3 separate regions of the Homo sapiens genome follow, and regions 2 and 3 are each linked to region 1. The links come from fine-mapping of genetic effects on gene expression. A gene starts in region 1. Each other region holds a variant in brackets. All regions are shown on one strand. Distances are from middle to middle. Region 1 holds the start of MRGBP (MRG domain binding protein). Region 2 overlaps NTSR1 (neurotensin receptor 1). Region 3 holds the start of COL9A3 (collagen type IX alpha 3 chain).

What was found.
Region 2: its variant is fine-mapped to the expression of MRGBP in fibroblasts (GTEx, PIP 0.91).
Region 3: its variant is fine-mapped to the expression of MRGBP in whole blood (TOPMed, PIP above 0.99).

What each region holds. Positions count from the first base shown.
Region 1 is chr20:62,793,782-62,803,978 of GRCh38, forward strand. MRGBP (MRG domain binding protein) reads left to right here and starts at 2,692. Exons shown (of 5, transcript NM_018270.6): 1 at 2,692-2,890; 2 at 3,329-3,450; 3 at 4,806-4,887; 4 at 5,194-5,268; 5 at 5,675-7,948. The coding sequence starts at 2,743. The coding sequence ends at 5,862. It overlaps OGFR-AS1 (OGFR antisense RNA 1), which reads right to left. Exons shown (of 3, transcript NR_102430.1): 2 at 8,234-8,328; 3 at 6,846-7,298. LOC105372716 (a long non-coding RNA gene) reads right to left here and starts at 500. Exons shown (of 4, transcript XR_936986.3): 1 at 1-500. RefSeq lists enhancers at 1-11, 248-317, 1,289-1,835 and silencers at 408-997, 2,459-2,998.
Region 2 is chr20:62,738,951-62,749,147 of GRCh38, forward strand. The region is part of intron 1 of NTSR1 (neurotensin receptor 1); the gene reads left to right. Among named protein-coding and RNA genes, the nearest start is that of NTSR1-AS1, 8.7 kb to the left of the region's middle. RefSeq lists enhancers at 810-2,009, 990-1,618. The variant A/G (reference allele first, on the strand shown) is at 5,846.
Region 3 is chr20:62,812,504-62,822,700 of GRCh38, forward strand. It overlaps COL9A3 (collagen type IX alpha 3 chain), which reads left to right and starts at 4,547. Exons shown (of 32, transcript NM_001853.4): 1 at 4,547-4,639; 2 at 5,064-5,132; 3 at 6,015-6,050; 4 at 6,719-6,790; 5 at 7,426-7,479; 6 at 8,678-8,713; 7 at 9,004-9,027; 8 at 9,254-9,307; 9 at 9,608-9,661; 10 at 10,088-10,129. The coding sequence starts at 4,562. OGFR (opioid growth factor receptor) reads left to right here. Exons shown (of 7, transcript NM_007346.4): 7 at 1-1,497. The coding sequence ends at 1,146. RefSeq lists enhancers at 2,727-3,413, 4,102-4,787, 5,476-6,161, 6,162-6,849. The variant GC/G (reference allele first, on the strand shown) is at 4,923.

The DNA.
Region 1 (10,197 bases):
AGACCCCTCACGAAGTCTCACTGGGCCATATCTCCACCAGGGCATGGCAGGGACCGGTATCACCAGCGGCCCCCTGCACAGATGGGGAAGCTGAGGCCCAGGTCCCAGTCAGCCAAGCCAGCTCTTGGACCACTCAGCGGTCCCAGCAGGTGAGGCTGACCAGAGCCTGCCTGGGCTAAGAGGCTGCGTTCACCAGTGCCAGCTGTGGTTGGTCACCAGGATGCCTGAGCGCGCTGGCACAGGCCCAGGGCACCCTGCAGAGCAACCAACCCTCACCGAGATCCCCAGGGAAGGGGCTGTTGTTGGCCCATTGTACGGAGGAGGGCACTGAACCCTCAAGAGGCTCAGGGCCTCGCCCGGTCACACAGCTGGAAGGCGCCAGAGCCAGGAAAGGGACCCGGAAGCCCGACCCGGAGCCTACACCCGCAGAGGCGAAAACATCTGCGTAGCGGCTCCCTGGCCAGTGGGCCGTGGTGGGCGTGGCCGAGAGGGAATGGGGCGGAGAGAAGCCCGTGAGGGCAGGGCGGAGGCGGAGGCGGAGGCAGAGGCGGAGCGGGCGGAGCCGGAGGCCGCGGCGGCCTTGATTGGAGGCCGCCTTAAGCTCGTCATGGATGCGTTTTGACCTGGCGGCCCCGCCCCTGACCCGCCCCCGAGCCGCCCTCCCGAGCGCTTCCCCGCCCGGCCCCAGCCTAGGCCCCGCCCTGATCTCGCCCCCTCTTCACCGTCCGGCCCCGGCCCCGCCCCGCGGTGGGGCCTCCGCAGCGACCCGCGGTTAACGCTTCCCCAGAGCTTGGGCTGCGCGGCGGCCGGGAGTCGGAGGCAGGCGGTCAAGGCCGGCAGGGCCGGACCCCCTACTTGCCCTTTCTCCCAGCAGGCGCTGGACTCTGGGGGCGGGCGTGAGCCCCTCCGTCCCGCACCCAGACCCGGGCAGCGAGCCCTATGCCTGCAGTAATTGTGGGGTTTCTGGTTTTGTTTTTTCCTTAACATCTTTATTGAGACCGTTAAGTTCACCCGCTTAAAGCGCACGATTCGGTGGGGTTTTGTTGCGAGCAACCGTGGCCACTATCTAATTCCAGAGCATTTCACCTCCTTAAAATGAAGCTGGGCCCGGCCGGGCGCGGTGGCTCAAGCCTGTAATCCCAGCACTTTGAGAGGCCGAGGAGGAAGGATCACCTGAGGTCAAGAGTTCGAGACCAGCCTGGCCAACATAGTGAAACCGCGTCTCTACTAAAAATACAAAAATTAGCCGGCCGTGGTGAGCGCCTGTAGTCCCAGCTACCCGGGAGTCTGAGGCAGTAGAATCGCTTGAACCCAAGAGGCAGAGGTTGCAGTGAGGCGAGATCGTGCCATTGCACCCCAGCCCGGGCAACAGAGCGAGACTCTGCCTCAAAAACAAACAAAAAAGAAGCCGGTCCCCATCCGCAGTGACTCGCGTTTCCCTCCCCCTCCCCCGTCCCCGGCAACCGTGCATCTACTTTCTATTCCTATGGAGTTGCCAGTTCTGGCTCTTCCTGTGAATGGATTCCCATGCTGTGTATTTTCGTGTCTGAATTCTCTGACTTTCGTCTCAGCCCGCACCCACGCTGCCGCAGTCCGCGCTCGCTGCTTTTAGGCTGAACGCGGCTGCGCCGTGCGGGTGCCCGCGCTCCGGGCGCCCCTCGCAGGTTCAGCCCCGGGTTGGGGGCGGCGCTTGCCTCGCGGCTGCGGGTCCCAGCCTGAACCTGTGTCTTGTTCCACTGCCGCGGGCGCCCGCCACGGAGCTGCTGCTTCCTAGGGAGACGGTTCCATCGTTGAAGGAACGGCCAGACTGTCTTTCGCAGCAGCGGCCCATCTGACCGCACAGCACGACCGCACGAGGGTCCCGAGCCCTGACCCTCGCAGCACTCGTCACCCCGGCCGCGTGGTTGTGGCGGTCTCGGCGGGGCAGGGGGTCCCCACGCGGGCTGATTCTAGTTTCGCGTGACCGATGGTGCTCATTAGCCATATCTGTACATCTTTTTTTTTTTTTCGAGTCGGAGTTTCGCTCTTGTTGCCCAGGCTGGATTGCAATGGCGCGATCTCGGCTCACTGCCTCCCGGGTTCAAGCGATTCTCCTGCCTCAGCCTCCCGAGTAACTGGGATTACAGGCGCCCGCCACTACGCCCGGCTACTTTTTTTGTATTTTTAGTAGAGACGGGGTTATACGATGTTGGCCAGGCTTGTCTCGAACTCCTGACCTCAGGTGATCCGCCCGCCTCGGCCCCCCAAAGTGCTGGGATTACAGGCGTGAGCCACCGCGCCCGGCCCATCTGTACATCTTCTTTGGAAAAATGTGTATCCAAATCCTTAGCCGTTTTATAGTTAGATTGTCTTTTTATTATCGAGTTATAAGAATTATTTATACCTTCTACAAGGAAGTTCATTATCAGATATAGGATTTGCAAATATTTTCTCTCATCTGTGGGTCGTCTTTTCACTTTTCTGATGGTTTCCTTTGAAGCACAGACTTTTTTGTTTGGGTGCAGTGTATTTCTTACTGTGCTTTAAAGAGGAACACGTTTTAAGAACCCCCGCGCGGGGCGGAGCAGGGCGGAGTCCCCGGCGGGAAGGGACCCGAGACCTCGGCTGCGCCTGCGCCGACGCCGGCGCGTGAGCCCGAGCGCGTACCCGGCGGAGCGCGCGCCCGCCCCCGAGTGCGCCTGCGCGGAGCTCGTGGCCGCGCCTGCTCCCGCCGGGGGCTCCTTGCTCGGCCGGGCCGCGGCCATGGGAGAGGCCGAGGTGGGCGGCGGGGGCGCCGCAGGCGACAAGGGCCCGGGGGAGGCGGCCACCAGCCCGGCGGAGGAGACAGTGGTGTGGAGCCCCGAGGTGGAGGTGTGCCTCTTCCACGCCATGCTGGGCCACAAGCCCGTCGGTGAGCGCCCAGGCTGCGGACGCGCGTGGGGGCGGGGCGGGCAACCGGCGGGGCGGGGCGGGGCCTGCGCTCGCGACACCCTCGCCCCCACGCTCCCCGCCGAGCCCGGGCCGTGACACCGCCGCCACACCCGTCCCGGGACCCCCGCCCCCTCCCACGCGCCCTTCGGACCCCGCCCCGGACCCCGCCCACGACCCCTACCCCCGTGAGACCGCGAGGTCCCAGCCCGCAGTGCCCCACCCCCACCCCCGCCCCGGGACAGCCCACCCCCTCCCACACACACCACCCAGCCCTGCCCCCCCACAGCCCCTCCACACCCTGGCCCTCCCCATCTCTCCGCAGCCACCCTTGCCCCTCCAGTCCCCAGGGCAGCCCGTCCCCTCCATCCCCTTTCTCCTCACCGCTCACCGGTTATCCCGCCGCCCCTCCTCCCCTCAGGTGTGAACCGACACTTCCACATGATTTGTATTCGGGACAAGTTCAGCCAGAACATCGGGCGGCAGGTCCCATCCAAGGTCATCTGGGACCATCTGAGCACCATGTACGACATGCAGGCGCTGGTGAGCCCAACCGCCCTCCCTGTGCCGCCCGATGGGGGCACGAACCCGCACACCGCTCTCTGAGAGTCAGCCTGAGCTGGGCAGAGGCCCCTCCATGTCTGCTGGGGTCTGCTGGGCAGAGTAGAGGCCCCTCCATGCCTGCTGGGGTCTGCAGTGAGCTCTCAGGGTCAGCCTGAGCTGGGCAGAGGCCCCTCCGTGCCTGCTGGGGTCCCCTGGGCAGAGACCCCTGCAGTGAGGCTCGTCCTTAAGGAGGACATCCCGGGGCTCCAGAGCCTGTCATGGAAAGCACAAACACAGTGCTAGCAGCTGGCTAGCTTTTCAGGGGCTCTGCTTTAGACTGGGTGCTGGGCCAGAGTCTCCAGCTGAGACCCTGGGGAGGGAGGGAAGGATGCAGAGTCCCGGGCCCTTAGGCCATTGTCAGCCTCCTGGGAGGCCCCCGAAGTGCTTTAGGCAGAGGGTGACCCTATCTGAGTCACACCAAGGTGAATTTGGTGACTTCTGTGGGAGTCAGACAAGTAGAGTTCCAGTCCTCGCAGAGCTTGGAGCTGGCACTGTGTGACGGGCGAGCGGGTTAACTAGGTAAGCAGGGTGGCCAGAAGAGACAGGTGGGTGTTCCAGGCCCTGTGGCAGCAGGAGGTGGTGGGTCCAGGAGCTCAAAGAAGGTGGTGTACTTGGAGAGTGGGGTGGGGGTCAGGGGTCAGGTGACCAGGAGGAGTGGGGACCTGTGCTGGTGGAGAGTCTGTGCCAGCCACGTTGGACTCAGGGCCACACCGGCCATCAGTATGACATAGGTCTCTCCCTCTGGTCTGTGCGACCTCAGGAGGGCAGTGCCTGGCAAGCACTCTCTTCTTCTTTGCCTGGTTCTGTGCCTGTGGCGCTCCCAACCGACACCCTCGGTGTCCATGGGCTCCTGCCACGTGGATGAGAACTCGAGGTGCCTGCGGCCTTTCCCCAGGGCTGTCACTGTGCCCTCTGCATGCCGCCTTGGGGAACGCAGTCTCATGGTGAGACTGCAGGCCGTGCTGGGCAGGCGGAGCCCACAGGTGTGTGTCACCAGGGCTGCCCGGTCCTCAGGGCCCGCCTTAGTGATGCTGGCCCCGGTGGGTCTTCCTGACTCCTGCATCTGCTGCCGCTGGTTCTGCCCTCCCTGGGTCTGTCTGGAAAGCCCAGCTGTGGCAGGCGCTGTTCACAAAAAGAAGAAATGCCCTTTGCCCTTGCCCCGCCCGCCGCAGCCTCCAACACAGTGATGTGTGCTCATTGGCCTCTCCCCAAGTGGCTCTTACACGGCTCTAGTGACTTCTTGAAACTGCATCTTCACCCTTGTTTCTTAAACAAAACTCTCTATTTGATATCAGCATGAGTCTGAGATTCTTCCATTCCCGAATCCAGAGAGGAACTTCGTCCTTCCAGAAGAGATCATTCAGGAGGTCCGAGAAGGTGAGGCTCGGGAAAGGTTGGGCTTGGGATTCAGAAAAGGCCAGACCCTGGCCAAGGGCAGGGAGGTGAGGGTGAGGACCCCGGGCCTCCAGGGAGGTGTGAGGGTCCAGCGCAGACCCCGCCCTACCTGTGCTTGGGTGGTCTTGGAACCTCCGGGATTGGAGAGGACTTTGTTTGAGAGCAGTGGCTGGACGGAAGCTGAGGCCTGTGTGGGCAGCAAGCGTCGGAGCAGTCCCTGGCCTGACCATCCCCCAGCGTCGGCCACCACCGTGGGTTTTCGGTGAGCGTCAGCTGTCTCCTCCACAGGAAAAGTGATGATAGAAGAGGAGATGAAAGAGGAGATGAAGGAAGACGTGGACCCCCACAATGGGGCTGACGATGGTGAGTGTGGAGCTCACCCTGCCCTGATGCCCTTTGGGGCTCAGCACCCCAAGACTGCCTTCAGGCAGGGCACAGTCAGGTGGGCGTAGAGCCTGCGGTGCAGAGGCCCCAGGCAGGTCATCTAGGCACAGGATGGATCCTGCAGTGCCCCCTCCCCAGGAGCTGAGTGCCTGCTCCATGTTGTAGGCCAGGGTCTGAGCGGCGGTCCCTGCAGTGCCCGCCGCAGGCAGGTCCTCAGGAGGACCAGGCCCCTCTGTGGGCCCAAATGCAAGGGGCTCCCAGCTCAGGAGGAAGCTTTGGGTTCAGAGGGTCACGTGTCAGTATGCAGATTTTTTTAACTGAACAGGAAGACAAAAATAAGATTCTGGATATTCTGTTTTCAGCCAAGTGATTTTTCGTTTCTCAGTTTTTTCATCTTCAGGGAGTTTGGGGAAAGCATCAGAAAAATCCAGCAAAGACAAAGAGAAGAACTCCTCAGACTTGGGGTGCAAAGAAGGCGCAGACAAGCGGAAGCGCAGCCGGGTCACCGACAAAGTCCTGACCGCAAACAGCAACCCTTCCAGTCCCAGTGCTGCCAAGCGGCGCCGCACGTAGACCCTCAGCCCTGGTGGCGGCAGAGAAGCGGGCGAGGCACTGTGGTCGCTGAGGGGGTTGGCTGGGTCTGAGTGCCACCCCCCAGGCCACAGTGATACCATCCCAGTGCCATGAGCCCACACTGCCCGCCCTCAGGCTCTCAGGTGAACGTGGCCGTCAGCGGGGAAACGTGTGTGTCAGTTGGACCATGTGGGACCCTGATGGACCTGAAAGACCAGGATCGGTCCAGCTCAGATATTGAGGGCTCTGAAGCCTAGTTCTGTCTTCTCTGGAGCAGCTGTGGCTTCCCCGTGGCTGCTTGGTGACATGGATTAGCGCTACGTGGGCTGCAGCATTTGGGATCCAGGCTACCTAGAGGGGCATCGGGCCAGGGAAAACCTCGGATTAGCAAGCAATAAAAACATGACCTCACTCTTCCTCAAAGGAGCCCCTGGTCTTCCCTGTGTGACTCAGTTCTTTCCATCTGTTTGTCCCGCTGCAAGCCTCTTTCTGCGCTGACTGTGACATTGGAACGTGGCCTTCCTGTCACCCCCTCCGTGCCACGCACTGAAGGCCACCCCCACCCACCTGGGAAACTAAGAACTGGATATTTTGCCTCATTCACTTGTACTGTAACAATGTATATAATTTGGTTGGTATTTCACTATTTAATTTTTAAGAAGCCTATTTTACTAGTGTTTTATATGAACAAAGTACTGCAGAAGTTAAACCTGTGTTGTATTTTTTCTGAGATGTTTTGCTTTAAGAGATACTTTTTGCTCAGTTTTTATATGCCAGATACAGAGAATTTGTAGCGGTTATTTTTGTATGATCTAGTAACTTGCAAACAGACCAAATGGATGAGAGGCGGGGACCGTGCAGCTGTCGGCTGATGAGGAGGCGGCCGCCCCAGTGCTGATGGAGATGCCACTTTCGTGTGACTGCGAACATTAAAGCACAAAAAAATCCAACCTGGAGTTGTGTGATTTTGATACCAAAGTAAGTTCACTTTTCCTCCAAAAGGAAGTTTTTATTTTTCCAAGATTTATAACTAAAGCATACACTTAGATGACTTATTAACATTCACTTGATACAACATATAAACAAAATAGTAACAGATTCTGAGTGGTTATTTTGTGGACTGTGACAAGCACTTCAAATACAAAATGTTAGGAGGGCAAAACGGTGCGGGCCCTCGTAGGTCAGGCAGGCACCAGTGGGCTCCTTCCTGCTGAAAGCTGCGGCTGTGAGATGAGACCGCTGGCTGGGTCACAGAGTGAAATCCAGCGTTCCGTGTGCGGACGAGGAGACAAGCTGTCCTGGCCAGCCATCGCACCCCAATGTCTTCAGCTTGACGTTGCTTCTCTGCCAGTGGAGCCTCCTCCACCACCTGGGAACATCCCTGGCCATCTGTCCCTGAAGTCCTCCTCACCATGACGCAGATCACAAGGCACCCACTAAAGGGGCAAAGCCAGGAATCCCGTGCCATGTGATCGCCCCGTGTGGCACCTGCCACTCGTCTGCACCAAACGCACTGCCAGTTCTGGGGAAGAACAGCCCAGGGAAGCTGCTGGTCTACGGCCTGCCTGAGCTGTATTCCAAGGGTAGAGCAGCTGCCTGGGGGGACCCTGTGGGTCCCTTTTCTATAGAGCCGGGACAAATCCACAGCCCTGCAGTAACAGCCTGCCACAAAGAGCAGGCATCTGGAGGGCCCCACACACATAGACCAAAGGACTGAGCCCGCCTGGCATTCCTCCACTCACAGCACAAATACTCAGCCCTGCAGCCAGGGAAGGGTGGGGTCTCCCTTTGCTGCCCAAGTGTGCCCCCTTGCCCGTCTGATCTCTCCTGTTAGGTCAGCCTCATTCAGGGCTTTGTGCCAGGTCCTGTCCTGGAGTCTCAGTCCGGGACAGCAGCCTGGCTCTTAGGCAGTCCAGAAGCAGCAGGGCAAAGGGGGGCAAATACTAACACGGGGTGTCACGGGATGGCCAGGAGGAGTCCTGCTCGCCACCCAGGCTCACTGTCCTAAACCTCCATCTGAAACCGCATCTCGGGTGACCTCAGATTGTGCTAGGAAAGCCTAGTTAATAAATCTGCCTCATCTCGATTACTGTAACATTTTGCTGCACTTCCAGGAGAAAGCTAGAGCCCACAGGTTAAGCCCACTGGGCAGGTGAGCAGCGTGCCCCCGCCCCGGGCCTCCCTTCTGGACCAGAGGCTGACTGGTTGAAGTCAGGAGCCACGCAGCCCTTATGGACTCACAGGGGCTTCTGGGCTTCCCTGTGGGGAGGCCCAGTTCATGCTCTGCTGGCAGGTGGGATGACCAGGTCAAATTCACAAGTGTCAGGGCAAGGGCGATGTGGCCTCAAGTCCTGGTAAGCGCTGTACTTACCCTCTCCTGGCCCCAGGGGTCCTGTCTGTAACCTGGGGGCTTTATGTAATGCACACTCCACCATGTCATGTAGAAGGTGCCGACTGAACCCCAATCTGAAAAGGAAAACAGCTGGCATGAGGCTGGCCCGTGCACGGACGCTCACGCGCCTGCTGCTGTAGAGGCGAGACGTGGTACACTGTGCACTCGGGACAAGATCTGAACGGGTCAGAAGCCGCCGCTGATGTTGAGCCTGGAAGCCTCAGCAGCGGCTCTACACCTGGAACACGCAGGGCCCAAGAGCACCTGCTGCCGCAGAGACATTTTCTCTATGGCTGGCAGCTGCGGGTGGGGACTCAGTGAAGGCTGAGAGTGGGAGTGATCTGAACTCCCCCGCCTGCCCACCCAGGGCGACCCAGGGGTGACTGGGAAAGGCAATTGGGCTCCACTGCTCCCCAAATAGCAGCGAATAAATACTGAGCGGCAGGGCACTGGCAGCGAGGCTCCCTGCTTGGCTGGTTGATTGAGGACAGGGCATGCTTGGGCCAAATCAGGAGGCTGCCACTGGTCTTGCCTGGAGAAGATATGAAGGCTGTAATCCAAGCTCCCAGCCACACAAAATTCTGCTGGGCTCCTTAGCTGTGAGCATTGCCTGCTCCAGGCACATCACCCACTGCGTGTGCAGAGACCATTGCCCTTCCTGGGTGCCTGGGAGCTGTGTGTGTGTGTGTGTGTGTGTGTGTGTGTGTGTGTGTGTGTGTGTGAGTATGTGACAGAGAAAGAGAGCCCCTTTCCCCAGCCTCAACAGCAAACCCTTCTGGAATGCCGTGCCACACGGGGCGTCACTGGACTGCAGAGGATGCTCTGAAGAAGCAATTCTGTTGCACAGTCCCCTGCAGCAGCTCCTGCACTTCTTGGATTAGCACGCCCCCGAGATGAGCTCTGCACACACACACACACACACACAACACAAAAGCAACTAAAGAAGCAATTTGGTGTGGTGATATTTGTAAAACAGAAGTTGGGCAATGTCTCTAATACTCTTTTTAGGGAAGTGGTTCTATAGTCCTGCCGACAGTAGGTAGCAGCGGGAATGCTGTCCCCGTAGAACAATGTTGTCAGCACCCAGTATGCTTGTCTTTCTGTTTTCTGGGGCAGTGGAGGGGGCAGCCTGACCACCCAAGTCTCAGATCACCCAAACCCTATACAACCACCCAGCACCCATCAATGTCCCCATCAGAGCCCCCCGACTCCACCTCACAGTCTATTCTGATGCTGCAACCAGATCCCACCTGTAAATCATCTAACAAGGAGGTCAGGCAGCTCACTCAGGCTCCCTGGGAAACCTGCCCTGGCCACTGCACTAAGTTGATTTACAGAAATGTCCAGCGCCCCAGAACTTCGGGGCATCACCACTGTCGTTTCAAGAAAGTGTGATGCATGTCCACAGGTTCCAGCCAGGTGAGACTGCACCTGCTAACAGTGGTCAACAGGTCAGCAAAGATTAGGGCCCAGCACCCAGAGGGTCCTTAACCTGTACTTGTGGCCAGGATTGGAAGACTTGCGTTCACGGCTGTCCCTGGCACACAGTACAAGGAATGTCACCAGTTCCCAGGCCCAGCAGGCCTGCAGGGCTAGGAGATGGCAGTGTCCCCTAGGGGCTGGGCTGGGGCCTTCTCCACCTTTCCACCACCATCATTACAGGGACAACTCTGCGAGGAGCTATCCTCATGGCCAAGTCCAAAATCCAGATTTAGTTTTACCTAAATGTTTTGAAATGAATTGGTATAGCAGTTACAGAAGAAATTTATCTGGAGTGGCCACTCCTGATTTTTATTTCAAGAGGTCACCAACCTTGCCATGTATCTGCCAGCAGATGTCAAAGGTGGATGAGCAAGGGACCCGCGGTGCTGGGAAATGGCAGGTGAAAGTGACTTTGTGTTGCCCCATATCTGCCAGTGCTTAGAGAGAGGGCCCTGAGGAGG
Region 2 (10,197 bases), 55 kb before region 1:
CTAGAAATGGGAAAGCTGGGACTTGTCGCCTCCCCAGTGATCTATCTTTTACACACGCGTGTTTTCATGCACTGAGCCATTCATAAAACAGAAAAGCCAAGCCTCCTCACTGTTGTAAAGGAAAGCCCTGCGTGGCTGTGAGGGAGACGCGTGTGGAACCTCATGTCGTGTGGCGCCGTTGGGGACCCGTTGGGCTCTTGAGACTGAACCGGGACAGGCTGAGAGGCTCTCCAGGACACTTCCGGGCAGCAGGCCCCCTCTGGCTGTGCTTGACCCTGGCCCCTGGGCCCTCTTGGTTCACCAAGTCTCCCACGTCCTATGCTCTTGAGATCCCAGACTCGGCACTGGATGGGGTGGCCCTGGGTCCCACTGCTGTTCCAGAGCACTGGCCCTTCCTTTCGGCCACTCAGGGTAGAGGCTGGAGCCCCTGGAATCACACAGAAGGGGCCTGGCTGAAGCACAAAGGGTGGAGATCTGGGGTTAAGCCAGAGCCTGGGGCCCCCTGAGCCCAGGGGCTGGGCAGCTGGGGAAGCAAGGAGAGCCAGGTGTCACTGAGTCAGTCCCTCCCATGCAGGTACTTGGGGGTGTGAGGGGCCGCCCCCGGCCTTCCTCTCTCACCCCTACGGCCTCTTCCGGTGGGTGAGGACACTTGGCTCTGTGTGTTCACCATAATCAGATTCACCACAACAGGGCAGAACACTAATTCCACTGACACCGCTGAGATGCTGTGTAGAGCCAGATGTCTGTGGGACACGGCGGCCAGCTTTGCCAGGGCGTGGCCACTAGGCGCTGGGAGGGGCAGGATGTGCCTGATGCCCATATGTCTGCATGGCAGAAAAGCACACAGAGAACCGTGGGGCTGGAGGTGCAGCGGCCGGCGACGGCCAGAACTGGAGAACAGGCCGGCGGGGTGCGGGACGCATATGCTGTCCCGCAGGCAACTGGGAACACTTGCTCTTTTCCAAATCTGTGCTCTGACATGGAAAGTTAAGTCGTGCTGGGACTGCTGGCCCCTGGCCGCACCGCCTCGTCCCCAGCTGCAGGGCCTCCCCCTTGATCACAGCAGCTCCTCCTTGGTCACAGCTGGGGCTTTGCACAAACTCCCCGGAAACCCAGGGCTTGCGTTTGCAGGTCTCTGGGCTTTTCCTGCATGGAGCAGAGAACTTTTCCGGATGGTGTGGCTTTTTTCAAGGAACCGGGCTCCAAAGCGCTCTGTGCTAAGTGTGTTAGCTCCACTTCTGATCTGTCACGTTAGTGCCCTGCGTTTTAGAAAAGTATGAACGAAAGCCTCAGCAAACCGGATCGAACGGGCTCATTCGCAGCCATAGGGTGAGCGGCAGGCAGATCTTACAAGCCGTGCAGGCCGGAAGGAAAAGGGTTGTGGGGCTCATTCTTAGTCATAGGGTGAGCGGCAGGCAGATCTTATAAGCCGCACAGGCCGGAAGGAAAAGGGTTGTGGGGCTCATTCTTAGTCATAGGGTGAGCGGCAGGCAGATCTTACAAGCCGTGCAGGCCGGAGGGAAAAGGGTTGTGGGGCTCATTCTTAGTCATAGGGTGAGCGGGAGACAGATCTTACAAGCCGTGCAGGCGGGAGGGAAAAGGGTTGTGCCGACAGTCTGAGGGTGGAGACCAGAGCTGTGGACTCGAGCCCAGGGGAGCCCCCACCTGGCCACGGTTTCCTCATCTGAGAAACAGGAGTGCGAGGCCCTACCAGGGATCCTTCCCGCTCAGATCCCCAGAGAGGTGGGGGCCGTGACCGGGGCCAGAATTCCACCCCTCACTCACTGCTCTGCGCAGCCTCCTGGGCTTGTCAAGAGTTTTTAAAGCCCTGTCGTGCTTCCCAGCAGATGCCTTGTGGGTGTGAGCATTCTCATGGGCTTGAAGCTGGCAGATATTTGAAAACATGGCAGAGACCTGCAGCCCGCAGCCTCAACCGCTGGCTGTCACCTGCCGCTGCCTGTGATTTACTCTTGAGAAGTGCTGGAGCAGCTGAAAAGCAACTCGCCACCCCAGCACTGCCCTCAGAGTGACTAATGGGGCACACTGGGGTTCTGGGCCCCGGCCAGGCTCAGCGAGGGGAGGGCCGTTCCCGGGGCTGAGGGCCAGGGGCCTCCCCTCCTCCTGTCCTGGAGGGCACCTGCCCAGCACAGGTAGAGGAGGCAAGGGTGTCAGGAAGGCTCTTTCCCTAATCTGACTAAGGCCCTCTGGGCTAAGTCAGGGGTCTCCCGGCAGCCAGGCTGCTAAGTCAGGGGTCTCCCGGCAGCCAGGCTGCTGCCAGTCCCGCAGCTCAGCCGGGCACAGACAGGATGTGGCTTCCAGGGGCTTCTGTTCTGCCAAGTCCCCACTCAGACAATGGCCTCTATAGCTCCAGCAATCAGGAGGGAAAAGATTCCAACTCCCACACTCAGGGCTCCCTGCTGCCTGGAAGAGGAGAGGAGGGCAAACCTCTTGCAGAGGTGACGGGTGACTCACCAGCCCCGCTCAGAGGACGGGTCTGCAGGTGGCCAGAGTTCTCCTGATGGGGTCCTTGCCCCCAGCTGGCTTGGGGGTCCCTACACCGGCCCCCTGCCCCACACCATGTTCCTCCCACCCCATGTCTGTGCGCCCCTTCGAGCATGCCTGGGCATTGTCCATGGTACTGAACCCCTGAGGCTCCCTGGGGCTCTGGCATTCTCTTGAGCCTTTCCCAGAAATTCCAAACCAGAAGAAAAGTGCAGGGAACAGAGTGGAGGAGCCATGGACAGAGGCTGTGGGGCAGGCTCAGTCCCTGAGAGGTCGCCAAGGAGCCACAGCCTTGGACTAGATGCTCTCAAAACCTGGCAATGGCCCACAGAAGGCATCTGCTCAGGTGAGGTACATGCCACAAAGCTTCACCAGTGGGGATGAGGATCTGCTCATAGGATGGCCCCTGATGGAGGAAGTGGGAGCTCAGGCTGTGGGATCAGGCCCCTGGGTTCACAACTGTGCCTGGGTTTCTTTATCTACAAAAGGAGCCTGACAGGAGCCTCTGCCTCACAGATGAGACCTGTGTGCCTGAGGTGGTGCACACAGAGTATGTGTAGACCCCAGGACAGTCGATGTCAGCTAGAAAGTGAAGGTTAGAGGAATTCAAACCGTTATTTTTAATACTGAGCCAAAACCTGCACATCAGAGCTCTCTGATGGAGGCGTGGACGGGGTCGTGAGGGGCCAAGTACTAGCCAGAAGCTGCGCCGTCCATTTCATCCCCTCCCCACAGTGGTCCCACAGACACCGAGGTGGCTGACATGGCCCCTCCAGGTCACACGCCTGTTCTCTCTCCAGTCCTGCCCTCAGGGACTCAGAAATGCTGGCGTTCCAGGAGGTGGTGTGTGGGCTCCTCCTCAGGCCAGGTCTGTGGTCACTGCTGACCACGCGGCAATGTACGGCTTTCCAGGCCCCCATCCACCATGAGTCAGGCGTGTCCCCACTGGGCAGCAAGTCCCACAGCTTTGCATTCCAGATCCCAGCAGCATCTCGAGCCGGGCCTGGTACTGCTTAGATGCCTGGGAGGGAGGACCGAGGAAAGAGACTGGGGACTGAGGGACAGCACAGTATCCCAAGCTGGCCACTACCAGAACCTTCTAGAACAAGGTCACACTGGCAGTTCTTTATGCCTTCCGTCCTCTGCTCCCCAGACACCTGTTTACACAGGGCCCTAGGTCTCAGGTGTCCTGTGGGTGGCCGCTGCTTTTCCCTGGGTCCCTCCATGGTGTCTCCTCTGAGGACAGCCACTGGTCAGAGCCTCCTGGATGACCTCACTCCTGGAAAGCGCTGGGCTGTGTCACCTTAAAGACCCCTTTGCTCTCTTGGCCCTGGCACCCCACCTCTGGCATGGGGAGCAGAGACCCACCAGGGTTCCCATCCCTCTCCCCGCAGTGTTTCCCCAGTTCCAGGGCTGTGAGGTGGTCACAGTGGCTCTGGTGTGGCCGTGGGGTTCCTGTTCATCCCAGGGCACCTGTCACGGGACATACCCACAGCACAGGCAAGTGGAACGTTCTCTGAGTTTAGCTTTGTTTGTGTAGGTAGTTCACTGTGGGAGTCTAGCTTTTGGGGGACACACCTGAGACCCTCCCAGCTACCCTGCCCTCTCCCCAGATCAGCTCGGTAGGCTCCAATCCAGAGAGTCAGGCTGGGAGGGGAGCACGGAGCCGCCCCTGCTGGACACGTATCCCGGCCATCTCAGGCCCACCCATTGCCTCATTGCTCCCTGCCCCCGGTCCAGTCAGCTGAGTGCCCCGTGGTGTGGGTGCGTCATGCCATGGCGACCAGCCCCAAAGGGTGAGCCTTTGAGTTGTTCACCAATCATTGGGGTTTCGAACAAGCCTGTGCTGACGGCCCTGGCACACAGGGTTTCTGAATTAACTCTGCCATCGTTCCTGGCCTCAGCTGTGGTGGGGAAGGCAGTTCGGGGTCATGAGAACCCTGAGGGTTGCTCCCAAGTCAGTGTTTGCTGGGTCTAGTGGGGGCCTCTCCACCTGGAGTCTGTCTGGGAGGTTAGAAAAGACCGTCCGTGAGCCTGGGCCCTGCTGGGGCTGGTCATCTGCTCAGGGAGAGGGCGATCCCCTGCCAGCCCAGCAAGGCCACCCCAGCGGTCACCCCCTTGGGAGGGTGTGGACAGGAGCCTCCCCTCCCACCCGCCCCGCAGCCTCTGCAGCCATCTTACAAAGCCTCTGGGTTCTGCAAAGCAAAAGGGTTTTGCACCTTCCCACTCAGCACAGGCTGGCTGCGGAGCCGGGAAGCAGTGTGCCAGTCTGGGGCTGTCTCTTGATCTAAACACAATGGGATGAATTAGAGAGAAAGGCAGAATACAAAACAAGCAATTGCTCTCGAAGAGCGAGGTGAGAACGCCCTGCCTGAGGTCGAGGGGCTGAGGCCGGCTGTCTGGAGCCTGTGTCGGGGGCACCCTCCTGCTGTCTGGCTGTGCCCTCACCTGTGGGCAGGCATACCGTGTGCACCCCTCCCGCTCCCCACCTGGTCTCCACGGCCAAGCTCAGACCAACCACCCAGAGGCTGCGCCCCGGTCCAGATCCCCCTAACACACCTGCTGTTTCATTATCTAACCTTTCACTCCACCTCCGTCCTCCCCATCAAAATTACACATGCGAGGGGGCAGAGGCCAGGCTGTCCCTCCCATAGGTCCAGCCCCACCAGCCGTCGCCCCAGCGTGTCCCATCCCAGCCTCCCAAGCCGCAGTCCTGTGCCCCCCAATTTGCTTCCTTTCCCACACCCAAGGGAGCACAGTCAGTGCTCCAGGAACTGAGGCAGCACCTCTAGGCTCGCTCTTTTAGAAATGAGGCTGAGGGGCTGGACGCAGTGGCTCGTGTTTGTAATCCCAGCACTTTGGGAGGCCGAGGTGGGCGGGTCATGAGGTCAGGAGATCGAGACCATCCTGGCTAACATGGTGAAACCCTGTCTCTACTAAAAATACAAAAAAATTAGCCAGGCATGGCGGCGTGCACCTGTAGTCCCAGCTACTGGGGAGACTGAGGCAGGAGAATGGCGTGAACCCGGGAGGTGGAGCTTGCAATGAGCTGAGATCACACCACTGCACTCCAGCCTGGGTGACAGAACAAGACTCCGTCTCAAAAAAAAAAAAAAATACAAAATTAGCCAGGCATGGTGGCACATGCCTGTAATCCCAGCTACTCAGGAAGGCTGAGGCAGGAGAATCACTTGAACCTGGGAGACGGAGGTTGTGATAAGCAGAAATCGCGCCACTGCACTCCAGCCTGGGCAACAAGAGCAAAGCTCAGTCTCACAAAAAAAAAAGAGAGAAATGAGCCTGAGGCCCAGGAGGACCTGCCGAGCTCACAGCTGGCCAGGGA[A/G]CAAGCCAGGCCCCCACTTCTGGCACCAAACCCCAGGCATTCGGCTGCTTCTGAGAGGCTTGAGGCCCTACCAACCACTCAAACGCCATTCCCAGACCCAGACAGGGCTAGGAGGCAAGGGGTAGCAGCTGAGGGGTGCACACAGCAGAGGATACTGCCAGAAGCACGAATGAGATTCCCATGGAGGCAGCCCCACCTCCAGACCACCACGGCTGTCACAGCAGACACCCCTGTCTCCCACCATGACCTTCTGCTCTGGAACATCCACCCCTAAAACCTCAGACCCAGCCACTGAGGCCCATGGCCCAGAGCCCAGCTACCCAGCCGGCTCCAGGGAGGGTGGCCCAGCCAGTTCCTGCCACCTGAGGATGTTGGTACACACACCAGACTCAGAGGGAGACCCAGACAGACAGCAACACAAAGACAGAGAGAGAGACACAGAGAGGAAAGCAGAGACACAGAGAGACATGGAGAGAGACACAGAGACAGAGAAACAGACACATAGAGGAAAACAGACACAGGGAGACACAGAGACAGAGATACAGAGACACAAGAAAACAGAGACAGAGATAGAGACAGAGACACAGAGATATAGAGATAGAGACACAGACTCAGGAAAACAGACAGAGAGAGACACAGGAGAACAGAGACACAGAGATACAGAGATAGAGACACAGGAACAACAGAGACACACAGACAGAGACAGACACAGGAAAACAGTGAAAGACAGAGACACAGAGGAAAACACACAGATATACAGAGAGAGACACAACAGAGACAGACACAGGAAGGAAAACATACAAGGAGACAGAGACACAGAAAAACACAGAGAAAAACACAGAGACATCACAGGAGAAAGATACAAAGACAGACAGAGACACATATTCTGCCTCGCCTCCAAATCCAGCTTGGCGTGGACCTCGCTGGGACTGGATGGCCTTCTCTACAGCTGCTGAACAGCCTCGCCGTCCCCAGGGCTTCCCTGCTGTTGGCCATGACCCTCCCCTGCTGCTTGGAATTGCAAAGCCAGGCGGTCTGGGAGTCCCAGCCACCACGCGTCCCCCAGAATATTCATGGGGCTGGGCCAGGTGACTCCCTGCTCTCTTTAGAGACAAATCGAAAGGCGCCAGGGTGCTGTGGCATCAGTGGCGCTGAGGCATCCTCTGGCCGGCCCTGCATGGCCTTCAAGCTGCTTGAGTCCATTGGACAAAGTCCCTCAAGGCCACCCTATGTGGCCAGGGCTGAGACGCCTAGAGAGGTAGACGCTCAGCCTGGGCAGGGACGGGGGCCACACTAGCAGAGGTCAGAGAAGGGGTCAGCCAGGGGGAAGGTCAAGGCTGCCGCCCGGCGGGTCACCACCAGGCCCCCACACTACCCCAGCCTGGCCGTCTGCTTCCTGTTCAGTTCTCACCCCCTGAGTTCTCAGGTCTGTGAGTTTGCTGGACCGTCTGCCAGGAGAGCTTAGGGTCCCTGTAGGCTTGTGGGTGCCATCAGGTCAGAGATGAGAAGTCACCTCCAAGCAGAGGCCTTCCCGGAACCCCCAGCACTACTGCAGCCAGGCTGCCGCCAGCATCGCTGTGTCTGTAGCTCTTATTGGCCCTGAAGTCACTGCAGGTGGTTCTTTCAGTGGTCTCTCCTCCCCAGGATCCAAGACCTCTGACGGCAGGGGCTCCTATGGCTTCTCCAAGGCAGTGATGTTTGTGGGAGGGAGGAAGGGAGAAAGGTGGAGGGAAGCTAGACTAACCAAGAAAAAAGAGAGAAGACATAGCTAAAATCAGATATGAAAGAGGAGACTTTACAAGATGCCACAGAAATCAAAAGGATCATAATAAACTGTGAACAATTTTATACAAACCAGCTGGACAGCCTGGAAAAAATGGATACATTCCTAGAAACTCACAAGCTTCCTAGAGTCAATCGCGAGAAATGGAAAATCTGAAAGGACCAATAACAAAGAAGGAGATTGAATCAGTTACCAAAAACCTCCCAAAAAAGAAAACCCCAGGGCAGGGCCAGGTTGCTTCGCCGATGGATGCTACAAACATTTAAAGAAGAATTAACACCAGTCCTTATACAATTCCGAAAATGTGAAGAGGAAGGAACACTTTCTAACTCATCTTACAAGGTCAGCATTACCCTGATACCAAAGCCAGAGAAGGACGCTATGAGAAAAGAACCAAGAGGCAAAAATCTTCAACAAAATACTGGCAAACTTCATTCAACAGCATGTTGAAAGGCTCATCCACCATGAGCAGGTGGGATTTATCCCTGGGATGGAAACACAGTTCAGCACATATGAATCAGTAAATGTGATCCACCACATGAACAGAAGGAAGGACAAGAGCCATTTGATCATCTCATTTGATACAGAAAAAGCATTTGACAAAACTCAGCATCCTTTCATGATAAAAACACTCAACAAACTGGGTGTTGAATGCATGCTACACAATAAAGGCCACGTATGACAGACCCACAGCTAACACCACACTCAGTGTAAAGGCCACGTATGACAGACCCACAGCTAACACCACACTCAGTGTAAAGGCCACGTATGACAGACCCACAGCTAACACCACACTCAGTGTAAAGGCCACGTATGACAGACCCACAGCTAACACCACACTCAGTGTAAAGGCCACGTATGATGACAGACCCACAGCTAACACCACACTCAGTGTAAAGGCCACGTATGACAGTCCCACAGCTAACACCACACTCAGTGTAAAGGCCACGTATGACAGACCCACAGCTAACACCACACTCAGTGATAAGAAGTAGAAAGCTTTTTCTCTAAGGTCAGGCAAAGCAAGGATGCACTACTCAACATGGTCCTGGAAGGCCTAGCCAGAGCCATTAAGCAAGATAAAGCAGTAAAAGGCATTCACATCAGAAAGGAAGAAGTAAAATTGTCTCTGCAGATGACATGAACTTATGTATAGAAAACCCTAAAGACTCCACAAAAACAAAAACAAAAACAAAAAAAAACTGTTAGCACTAATAAACACATTCAATAAAGTTGCAGGACACAAAATTGGCATATGAAAATAAGTTGTGTTTCTATACACTAGCAATGAATTATCCCAAAAAGAAATCAAGAGGGCCAGGCGCAGTGGCTGACACCTGTAATCCCAGCAGTTTGGGAGCCCGAGGCGGGTGGATCACCTGAGGTCAGGGGTTTGAAACCAGCCTGGCCAACATGGCAAAGCCCAGTATCTACTAAAAATACAAAATTAGCTGGGCGTGGTGGTGTGTGCCTATAATCCCAGCTACTTGGGAGGCTGAGGCAGGAGAATTGCTTGAACCTGAGAGGCGGAGGTTGCAGTGAGCCAAAATTGTGCCATTGCACTCCAGCCTGGGCAACAAGAATGAGAATCTGTCTCAAAAAAAAAAAAAAAAAAAATCCCATTTACAATAGCATCAAAAAGAGTAAATTTAATCAAGGAAGTAAAAGACCTGTACACTGAATATAACATGATGAAAGAAATTGCACAAATAAATGGAAAGATACCTCATGTTCATGCATTGCAAGAATTCATATTGTTAAAATTTTCATACTACCCAAAGTGATCTACAGATTCAGTGCAATCCCTATCAAAATTTCAATGACATTTTACACAGAAATAGAAAAAAAAATCCTAGGATTCATAGTGAACCACAACAGACCTCAAATAGTCAAAGCAACATTAAGAAAGAGGAACAAAACTGGAGGCATCACACTTCCTAATTTCCTTTTATATTACAAAGCTATAGTAATCAAAACAGCATGGTACTAGTACCACATAGACCCACGGAACAGAACAGAGAGCCCAGCAATAAACCCACTTTCGTACAGTCAAATCATCTTTGACAAGGTGCTATGGTTTGAATGTCCCCTCCAAATCTTATTAAAACTTCATCCCCAGTGTGGCAGGATTGAGAGGTAGAGCCTTTCAGAGGTGATGGGATCTGTGAGGACTGGACCCTCATGAATGGATTAATCCATTCATAAATAAATGAGTTATAGGATTAAGGGGCAATCACACAAGGGGAGCTGGTGGCTTTATAAGAAGAGAAAGAGAGACCTGAGCTAGCATGCTCTGCCCCCTCTGCACGCGATGCCCCATGCCACGGCGGAACTTTTCCGAGAGTCCCCCCAGCAAGAAGGCTTTCACCAGTCGCATCCCCTGGGCCTTGGACTTCCCAGCCTCCATAACCATGATAAATACCTGACTTTTCTTTGTAAATTACCCAGTTTCAGGTCTTCTGTCATAAGCAACATAAAATGGACTTAGACACAAGGGCACCAATACACAATGGGGAAAAAGCAGTCTCCTCAAACAGTGATGGGAAAACTGGATATCCCCATGCAAGAG
Region 3 (10,197 bases), 19 kb after region 1:
CCCAGCTCTCTGCCCCATCCGCTCGAGGGCTCCAGGAAGGTGGAGGAGGAAGGAAGCCCCGGGGACCCCGACCACGAGGCCAGCACCCAGGGTCGGACCTGTGGGCCAGAGCATAGCAAGGGTGGGGGCAGGGTGGACGAGGGGCCCCAGCCACGGAGCGTGGAGCCCCAGGATGCGGGACCCCTGGAGAGGAGCCAGGGGGATGAGGCAGGGGGCCACGGGGAAGATAGGCCGGAGCCCTTAAGCCCCAAAGAGAGCAAGAAGAGGAAGCTGGAGCTGAGCCGGCGGGAGCAGCCGCCCACAGAGCCAGGCCCTCAGAGTGCCTCAGAGGTGGAGAAGATCGCTCTGAATTTGGAGGGGTGTGCCCTCAGCCAGGGCAGCCTCAGGACGGGGACCCAGGAAGTGGGCGGTCAGGACCCTGGGGAGGCAGTGCAGCCCTGCCGCCAACCCCTGGGAGCCAGGGTGGCCGACAAGGTGAGGAAGCGGAGGAAGGTGGATGAGGGTGCTGGGGACAGTGCTGCGGTGGCCAGTGGTGGTGCCCAGACCTTGGCCCTTGCCGGGTCCCCTGCCCCATCGGGGCACCCCAAGGCTGGACACAGTGAGAACGGGGTTGAGGAGGACACAGAAGGTCGAACGGGGCCCAAAGAAGGTACCCCTGGGAGCCCATCGGAGACCCCAGGCCCCAGCCCAGCAGGACCTGCAGGGGACGAGCCAGCCGAGAGCCCATCGGAGACCCCAGGCCCCCGCCCAGCAGGACCTGCAGGGGACGAGCCAGCCGAGAGCCCATCGGAGACCCCAGGCCCCCGCCCGGCAGGACCTGCAGGGGACGAGCCAGCCGAGAGCCCATCGGAGACCCCAGGCCCCAGCCCGGCAGGACCTACAAGGGATGAGCCAGCCGAGAGCCCATCGGAGACCCCAGGCCCCCGCCCGGCAGGACCTGCAGGGGACGAGCCAGCCGAGAGCCCATCGGAGACCCCAGGCCCCCGCCCGGCAGGACCTGCAGGGGACGAGCCAGCCGAGAGCCCATCGGAGACCCCAGGCCCCAGCCCGGCAGGACCTACAAGGGATGAGCCAGCCAAGGCGGGGGAGGCAGCAGAGTTGCAGGACGCAGAGGTGGAGTCTTCTGCCAAGTCTGGGAAGCCTTAAGGAAAGGAGTGCCCGTCGGCGTCTTGGTCCTCCTGTCCCTGCTGCAGGGGCTGGGGCCTCCGGAGCTGCTGCGGGCTCCCCTCAGGCTCTGCTTCGTGACCCGTGACCCATGACCCACAGTGCTGGCCTCCTGTGGGGCCACTATAGCAGCCACCAGAAGCCGCGAGGCCCTCAGGGAAGCCCAAGGCCTGCAGAAGCCTCCTGGCCTGGCTGTGTCTTCCCCACCCAGCTCTCCCCTGCGCCCCTGTCTTTGTAAATTGACCCTTCTGGAGTGGGGGGCGGCGGGCAGGGCTGCTTTTCTTAGTCTGATACCAAGCAAGGCCTTTTCTGAATAAATTCATTTGACTTTGAGTCTTTGGTATGGACCGGGGTCCTGTTGGGTGGCTGGTAGGGCTGGTGTCACAGCTGATGTCCCTCCAGGCTCCAGTGGCCTGGCCCGGCGACCGCCTCACATTGCTCCACCAGGTGCCTGTGGGGGCAGAGTGGTGGCCCAGCCCTCCCCACACACCCACTTGGCCACACAGTCCCCAGGCATGAACAGGTGGGCAGGCTGCAGCCTCCCAGAGCCTCTGAAGGTGGAACCGAGGTCCCTCAGCAGGCTTTTGCCACCTGTTCAAGATGAGTCTGGGGCTTCCCTTGGGGTTGGCCGGGGCAGTGCTTGTGCATGGTGGGGTCTGGACCAGGCCTTTCTGCCTGCTGTGATCTGGGATGCGCTGCTGTGCCTCGGGCAGGCTTGGCAGTACTCTCTGGCGGGCCCCTTGGCTCCCTCAGGTCTGGTGGAGCCAGGTGTGCCCCCAGGGCAGTCCCTCCCTGCAGTCTGCCCTTGTCACCCTGGGCCAGGACCCCCCGCTTCCCGGTTCCCCTACATTTCTACATCAGCAGGGTAAGGGGCTTTTTGTGGGGCCTCAGAGGAGGGGCCGGACACTTGTCTTTGCTCAGTGAAGGACAGGGCAGACCTGGGGCACCCCTGGGTGGGAGGGTTAAAGCTGTAGACCCTGGTACCACTTCAGGTAAAATGCCCAGCTCCCATCTGGTGGCACAGGATACACGAGCCGGAAGTCACTGGGAGGAGACACCCGAGGTTCAATAATCCCCCAGAGCTGCGTGGGGAAGCTGTGGGACCCCTGGTGCCTCAAGTGTGGCTCAGGGGATTCCTGCCATGGAGGGAAACTGAGGCAGTGAGCTGGACATAGGGCTAGAAGTGCAGTCACTGGGGCAGCGCCCGGCAGATCCAGCGTCCCCAGTCCAGGCCGTTGTGGGGCTGGAGTCGGTGAAAATCAGCGCCTGAAGTGAGGAGCCTGTTGGAGCAGCCCTGGGGGCCGATGCCTGGCGGTGGGCACCTGGGGACAGCAGGCAGTGCTGGCCAGCCAACCCGGGCTTCAGGGAGAGTGATGACCCACAACAGGCGGGCAGCAGGAGGCTCTGCCCCACTCAAAAGTGAGCCGGGGGAGGCTGAGCTCTGACAGTGCCCACCCTCTGCCTAGGATCTGCCTGGAGCTGGGGGTGGTTTTTTGAGGGGCTTGAAGGTGGTTCGGGGGGGACACCAAGCAGGTGTCCCAGGCATGAGGTGGCTCCCCTGGCCTGAGGTGAAGGCCAGCTGTGTTTTGTCTGATTTGGGTCAGATAGCAGTCCTTGCTGACTGCATGCTGGGCATCATGGGGATAGGCAAAGTGGGGTGTGGGGCCAGGGACCAGGGGAGAGCCACTGAGGAGGGGGCTGGCCACAGGGTCATCTTGCCAGGTGGAACTGGTAGGGAGGACTTATCCTGTCCCCCAGACCCTGGGCTTGGGGTGGGGCTGGTGCTGGGAGCCCCTAAGGCCCCCTGCTGTCTGGGCTGACCTGCTCCACCCACCTCTCCCCGTAATCAAAAGTCCTCTGTTAGGAAGCTCTGTGCCAGGATGACTTGGACTCCTCAGGAGGGTGGGCCTTTTCAGCTCCTCCCACCTCGCCTGATGGAATTCGCACACACCCCTCCCAGCCCAGCCACCGCGCTCACCCAGCAGTGAAGGGAGAATCTCCCTCCACTCACTTCACCGCGGGAGAGATTAGAGCGACACTATTATTTTGAGACAGGGTCTCACTCTCTTGCCCAGGCAGGAGTGCAGTGGCGCCGTCTTGGCTCACTGCAGCCCCGACCTTACAGGCTCAAGCGATCCTCTTGCCTCAGCCTCCCGTGTAGCGTGGACTACAGGCGAGCACCACCATGCCCAGCCGATGTTTTAATTTTTGGTAGACATGAGGCCTCCCTCTGTCTCCAAGCTGGCCACGCCCGGCCGATGTTTCAATTTTTGGTAGAGATGAGGCCTCCCTCTGTCGCCAGGCTGACTGCGCCCGGCCAGAGTGCGGTGCTCCTGCTGAGCAGTTTTGCGCCCACTCCCCTCTCATCCCCTCCCGCCCTTGCTAACTCACAGCATTGCAACAGTCATGAGTCCCCACCTGCCGAAAGGAAGCTCCTGCAGCCCCCTACAACCCCCAGGGCAGCCTTTCTCGGGAATTTTCAAGATTCCTGGGGGAGGGGCTGGCATCTGCGCCTTCACTGAGCCTACAGGCAACTGGAAGCTTTGAGTCCCCTAGGGCAGCGACTGCCCTGGCAGCCTGAGGCAGAGCTTGGCCGGACCTGGCGACCCCTGAGCTTCTGGGAAATGGACATGGCCAGCACCGCCTTCAGGTTCCTGCCCAGGGCACGGTTCCTTCAGGCCGGGGATCCCGGGGAGGGGTTCTTCCCCTCGGCCAGGGTCATCGTTTTGCGATCTCTCCTGGGAGTCTGGGTTTGGAGTCTGGTCTTAGCCGGTAGCAACTGACGTGGCCTGACCACCCGGCCCGTCCAGGTCCACGGGTGAGGGGCCGCGGTGGGGGTGCTCCCAGCCCAGCAGGCAGCGCTGGACAGTGACCCCGGAGCGGGAACCAGGGCTGCGCTGGGCACTGACCGGGCCCTGGTACCGGGGATTCACCCTCCCCGGGGTGTTCCTGGGCCTTGGGTCGCCTGGGTCCGCTCCGGCGCCTGGGGAGGGGTCTGCGGCTTCGGAAACTCGCGGGTCTCCCCTGCCCCTCCCTGAAGGCGGCCCTTCAGCGCCGCGCGCTTCCGCCCCCACACTCGGGTTGAGGAGCAAGGAGAGAAAAGAGCGTCTTTCTCTCTTGCTCAAAGCTGCGTGTGTGCAACGCGCCAGTCCCAGGATAATTTTAACTCGCGGCCGGAGAGAACGCGCCGCCCGCCCGGCGTCTTTTTTGTTTTCGCCCAGGCGGGCTGGGCGGCGGCGCGGGGCGGGTGGAAGCCCCCCCGCCCAGGTGGGCCCGGCTGAATGGGGGGCTTGTGCAGGCGGGGGCGGGAAGGGGAAGGGGAAGGGGCCGCCCACCTCCCGCCCCGCCCGCCCGCGCGCCGCCCGCCCCGACGCCGCAGCTCAGACTCCGCTCAGCCATGGCCGGGCCGCGCGCGTGCGCCCCGCTCCTGCTCCTGCTCCTGCTCGGGGAGCTTCTGGCGGCCGCCGGGGCGCAGGTGAGCGCGAGCTCCGGGCTCTGAGGCTGGACGTGGAGCCGCGACCGCCCCAGCCCCGAACCCGCCACTCCGGGGTGCCCGGCGCAGCCTCGACGCCCCCAGCCCGTGTCGCCGTCGGGGCGCGGAGTCGCCAGCGCCTCGGGATGAGCCCCGTCCGGCCGCGTCCTCGATGGGTCCTCGCTGGCCCGGGTCGGCCGGCGCCGCCGCCTCCTCTGGGAGCACAAGGGGGCCTTTGTTCCCGCCGCCGGAGGGAGGCGGGGGACACACTGCGCGGGGGCGCCGG[GC/G]TCCGCCCGAGGCTTTGGGTCTCACCGAGGAGAGCGGCGGTCGTCGCAGGCCCCGGAGCCGCTCGGGACCCGGGAGGAGGGGACGCCGGGTCAGGCCCACGGGGGCACCTGCGCTCCTTAATGAGTTTTCTCCGTTTCAGAGAGTGGGACTCCCCGGCCCCCCCGGCCCCCCAGGGCCGCCCGGGAAGCCCGGCCAGGACGGCATTGACGTGAGTTTGGGGGTGGGGAGGGCCCCGAGCGCTCTGGGGTTCTGGCTCTGGCCCCCACCTCCCTGAGCTCCCCGGCCTGATGGAGAGAAAACCAGGCCCCACCTCCCAGAGCCGGGGTGACATCAGGGGACAGCCAGTGCCTTCACGGGATGGGGGTGGCCCTGCGGGGACTGCTGGTGGGTAGGGGTGGAGGGTGTCATGTGGTGGTCCTCCACCCAGAATGCCGGCACTGAGGTGTGTGTCTCTGGGTCCCCTGAGGGGCCCGTGCCCCTGTGTTCGGGGTTCTGGCCTCTGGCTGAAGTGGGGAGAGGCACGTCCTTTGGGTGGTTGGGGGCCGGGGGTCTTGTTGGAGGCTGCTGGGCTCTGGAGCCAGCCATGGAGGGGGCTTAGGAGCCGACTCAGTCCTGAGATGATGTCCCCTATGGGTATCTCAGGACTGGTGTGGGCCAAGCAGCAGGAGGAGGCGGCTGAAATTCTACAATTGTGCCTCCCTCGGAGGGACCGTCTGGGGTGAACCTCCCCATGTGACCACCACCAGGGCAGGAGTCCCCTCAGGGCCTGTCCACGCTGTGTGGTCCCCGTGGAGGGCTGTGGAGGGCTGCACCAAGAGCCCCCCATGACCCACCCTCTGCCCCCCTGCCCAGCTCGGCCTCAATGGCCACAGCCTCCTTCCAGTCTGTCCAGTTCACCCCTTTGCCCAGTGCTGCCCCACACATGGGAGGGTGCCCTCTAGGTAGGGATCGGGGGCTCAGGGGCCCCTTTTGTCTGCTGGGGCTGGGCCTCTGGGGCTGATTTGGAGGCCAGCGCTGCTCTTTTCCCCGAGGCGGGGTTCTTGAGGGACCCCTGATTTTCAGGGTTACATGTGGGTGTCTTTCCTCACAGGGAGAAGCTGGTCCTCCAGGTCTGCCTGGGCCCCCGGTGAGTGTCCCTGGCTGGGGAGACAGCCTTTTTCCAGTCTGGAGAGAAAGGGGGAACTCAGAACAGAGGGGTCATTGATATCCTGTCTCATCCTGCCGGAGCCCGGGTTGCCTGAGGGGAGGCCTCAGAGGGCTTGGAGCAGGCCTGGAGCCAGCGGGGCGGGAGGGGAGTGTGTGGGCTCAGCCTCTGCATGTTCAGGGCAGGGCCTGGCTTTGAAGCTTTCTTTGGACCAGCGCCAGGCAGGCCGGGACCGGGGCTGGTACAGCCCTTCAGGTCCCCCAGGCCTGAGGTCACCTGGAGCCCTCCCACCTTCTTCAGTTCCAGGGGTTGAGGGTCCTGGGGCTCAGAGCCCTGTCTGGGCCCACTGGGGGTCCGACAGAGATGCCTGCTGGCCCTTAGCCAGGGAGGCCGAGGTGACCAGACGAAGGTCTTACAGATGCCACTGAGGGATGGGGCGGGCAGCCTTCCTGGGCCAGCAAGGTGTGGGCAAGCAGGACACACGTGCCCCAGCTGAGCCGGGTCTGCCAGACAGTAGGGGGGACCCAGGAGAGGGGCCCATCCCGTATGGTTGGGCTGGGGGGAAGTGGAAAGCATTTTGCTTCATTGCTGAAGGCCTGGGCTCCAGGCCAGACCCCGCCTTCACATCTCTGCCCTTTCCTCCTGCACAGGGACCAAAGGGGGCCCCAGGAAAGCCGGGGAAACCAGGAGAGGCTGGGCTGCCGGGACTGCCGGGTGTGGATGTGAGTGCGCCTGCCCCTCCCCGCCATGCCCCACTCCCCGCTCCGGGTCCCTGGAGGAGTCCGGCCCTAATTGCTGTTGTCCAGCTGGGCCTGCTCAGGCGGGAAGCCCAGTCCTGAGAGAAGTCTCCAGAAGTCCCCAACAGGGGTCCTTTGGCCTTCATCCCAGACGCCACCAGCATCTGGCAGGGGACAGAGCCAGCCCAGTGGAGTCGGAAGTCCCGCCAGCCCTCCTTGCTTGTCCAGGAATGAGTGCCCATTGTCAGGACCTTCTGCCCACTGCTGGCCTCACTTAGTCATCTTGGGCTCCAGGCCTGGCCCCAGGGCCACGGAGTTTTGTTCGGAGGAAGCCGGGCCTGAGAAGTGAGCTGTCCAGTCCTGCTGGGTTGGTCCCCGAGGCCTGACTACAGCAGGTGCCTCCGTTGCTGGCTTCCCGCTGGCTGCCCCCTCCCTCCTCCCAGAGCCTCTGGCTACAGCAGGCAGACAGTGGACAGGGCCAAGAGAGGAGGCTGCCACCCTAAGGGTCTTCTATGCCTCTCTGGACTCACCAAGGGAAGGGTCCGTGCTTCCATTTTTGCCTGGGGGGTGGCATGTGCTTCCCATGTGGCCCCTCGAGCTCGCCCTCTGCCTCTCCCCAGGGTCTGACTGGACGAGATGGACCCCCTGGACCCAAGGGTGCCCCTGGGGAACGGGTAAGTGCCTGCGCCGAACCCAGTGGCTTGGGTTCAGAGGTGAGGTCCCCTGGCCACCTCTGGCTGCTCTGTGTCCACAAGGCCAAGGAGCTGGTAGTTCCAAGGACAGCTGCCCTGCCCGTGCCTGGGGTGGAGGGGCAGAAGGGCAGGGTGCCAAGTGGCCAGTCCCCTGTGCCTGCCTCCCTGCCTCACCTCCACGTATGGTCAGAGTTGTCCTGGTATCCAGACCATGGCAGGGAGAAGGGGGATGGTTTGGGGGAACCCACCCCAGGTGCCTCCTCAGAATGTCCCTGAAGCCCCCAGGGCCCTGGGCAGACCACCACCAGGGACCCCCGGGCACGCAGCCTGCAGAGTCCCCTGTGCCTGCCTGTTGGACACTGAATCCTTTACCCTGACGGAGCGGCACCACCACCCAAGGGTGCCTTTCTCCCCTTGTGGCTTCTGAGTACAAACCCGAAGCCAGCATTCTCTCTTTGGCTTCATAAGACGTGGCTGTCAGCCAACCGGGTGCCACTGGCCCCAGGCGCAAAGCATCACAGAGGGCAGGAAGGCTGGGCTGGGGACACGAGGACACAGCCCTGCCCTTGGGACCCTTGGGAGCTCGTCAGGCATGAGGCGGATTCTGAGCTGAAAACAGGAGGGAAACAGTAGCTGCTGGCAGCCGAGTCCGTGGTGCCCAGGGGTGTGGGGTGGGCTGGTCCCCAGGCTTTCAGGAGGGGCCTCCAGCCTCAGCACAGGGCCCGTGCGTGCCGTCCAGGGAATGAGGCATTTCAGGCAGCAGGGGCCAGACAGGGCCCAGAGGGTGTGGAGGGCAGACAGGGCCTGGCTGCCCAAGGCTCTGGGGCTCGCTGACGTGGGCGGGGGCTGAGGACTCAGCAGGCTCCGTGGGTGGGTTATCGGGAGGGCTTCCTGGTGGAGACAGGCACCCCGGGTCACTTCGGTGCCTCTCAGCCCTGCCTCAGGTTGCACCTTCTTGCAGCGAGCGCTGGGACTCTGGTGCCATCTGTCTCCAGCAGCTCCCCAGGACGGCAAAGACCCTCCAGGTCAAGAGGGCTCAGAGGCCCTGCCCCTCTGTGAAGTGGGGACTTGGACCCTGTTGTCCTGGGAGTTGGAGTTGTGACGTCACACTTCAGAGGGAGGGGATTGGGTTTGCAAATAGAGGCCCAGCCCAACCTAGACGCCTGCTTTCCTCCCACAGGGAAGTCTGGGACCCCCGGGGCCGCCCGGGCTGGGGGTGAGTATGGAGTGTGGTCCTCTCCTCTCCATGGGAGTTTGGGGAGCTGGAGAGTCTGGTCTAAATGGGGTGGCCTCCAGGAATCCCAGGGACCATCCCTGGCCCTCTCATCTGCAGCCTCTCCGGAGGCTGGTGCCTGGATGGGGTCCTGGTGCCCTCTCTGGGCTGGGACCAGACACCCATCCCTGGAACCGCCCTTTCCCCAGGACCCACCTGAGCCATCTTAGGGAGGGGTGAGGCGCAGCCCTTCTTGTGCCTGGCAGGCTCTGACCCCATGTTTGGCTTTGCAGGGCAAAGGCCTCCCTGGACCCCCCGTGAGTACTGACAACCCTTGGGGCCCTGAGCAAGCACGCAAGTCCCGAGAGCCTGCCAGGCTGGGATGTCCCAAACCGTGCCTGGGGGTGGGGCTTCTCAGGGGCAGCCATCTGACCACCCCATACTTGGAGCCCCTCTCCCTTCGGAGGCGGCACACCAACCCTGGGTGGGGATCCTCGGGGCTTCCGGGTGCAGACCTCCCCACCTCTCTTTACTTCCCTCCAGGGAGAGGCAGGAGTGAGCGGCCCCCCAGGTGGGATCGGCCTCCGCGGCCCCCCGGTGAGTGGCTGTCCCAGAGCCCCTCAGAGTGTGCTCACCTGTGGCCTCCACCCCCAGACTCAACAGCCAGGGGCTCCCTTCCCCTCTCCCTTTTCCCTTTCTCCCCCAACCCCACCTTGGTGGGTGTTGGTAGAAGCCCTGGCCAATGATCCAGACCCGACCTCAGGACGCAGACACCAGCACAGTCCGTGGGAGTGGGGGCTGGTGGGAGCTGGGCGTGTCCACCTCCCTGGGAGAAGCCGGGCACCTCACTCAGGTGGGGGCTGGTCCCACTCTGTCTAAGTCATACCCCCTCCCCAGGGACCTTCTGGACTCCCCGGCCTCCCTGGTCCCCCAGGACCTCCCGGACCCCCTGTAAGTACTGGGCAGAGGCTCTAAGAAGTGCTGGGCATGGACTAGGACACTGGGTTGGACCCTCCCCATTCCCCCTCCCCAGGCTCCATGCCCCTCCGAGATCTCCTAACCCTAACTTGGCCACTCCCAGGAACAGTCAATGGTGGGGGCAGTGGCTGTGGCTAGGCCAGCCAACTTGGGGATGGTCAGGACTCAGGTCCCCATGGCCATCCTGCCCCAAGGACAGGTGGATTCTGTCGTTGTCACATGCCCTGTGGGTGGGCCAGCAGCTCCCAGCACTGGCCACTTGGGGGACAGGATGAAGGGTCTCCAAGTCCCCTGGTGGATGGGGAAGGTTGTGGTCCGTCAGAGAGTGGGTGGGTGGGTTGGGTGGCTGCAGGTGGCTGGGGAGGGCGGGAGAATGTCAGCTGTCTCTTTTTGTCTTAGGGACACCCAGGAGTCCTCCCTGAAGGCGCTACTGACCTTCAGGTAGGCACTTGAAGCCATTTGTTAAGGGTGCTGGGGGGTGCCTACCTTGGGGGGAGGGGTTCTGGCCT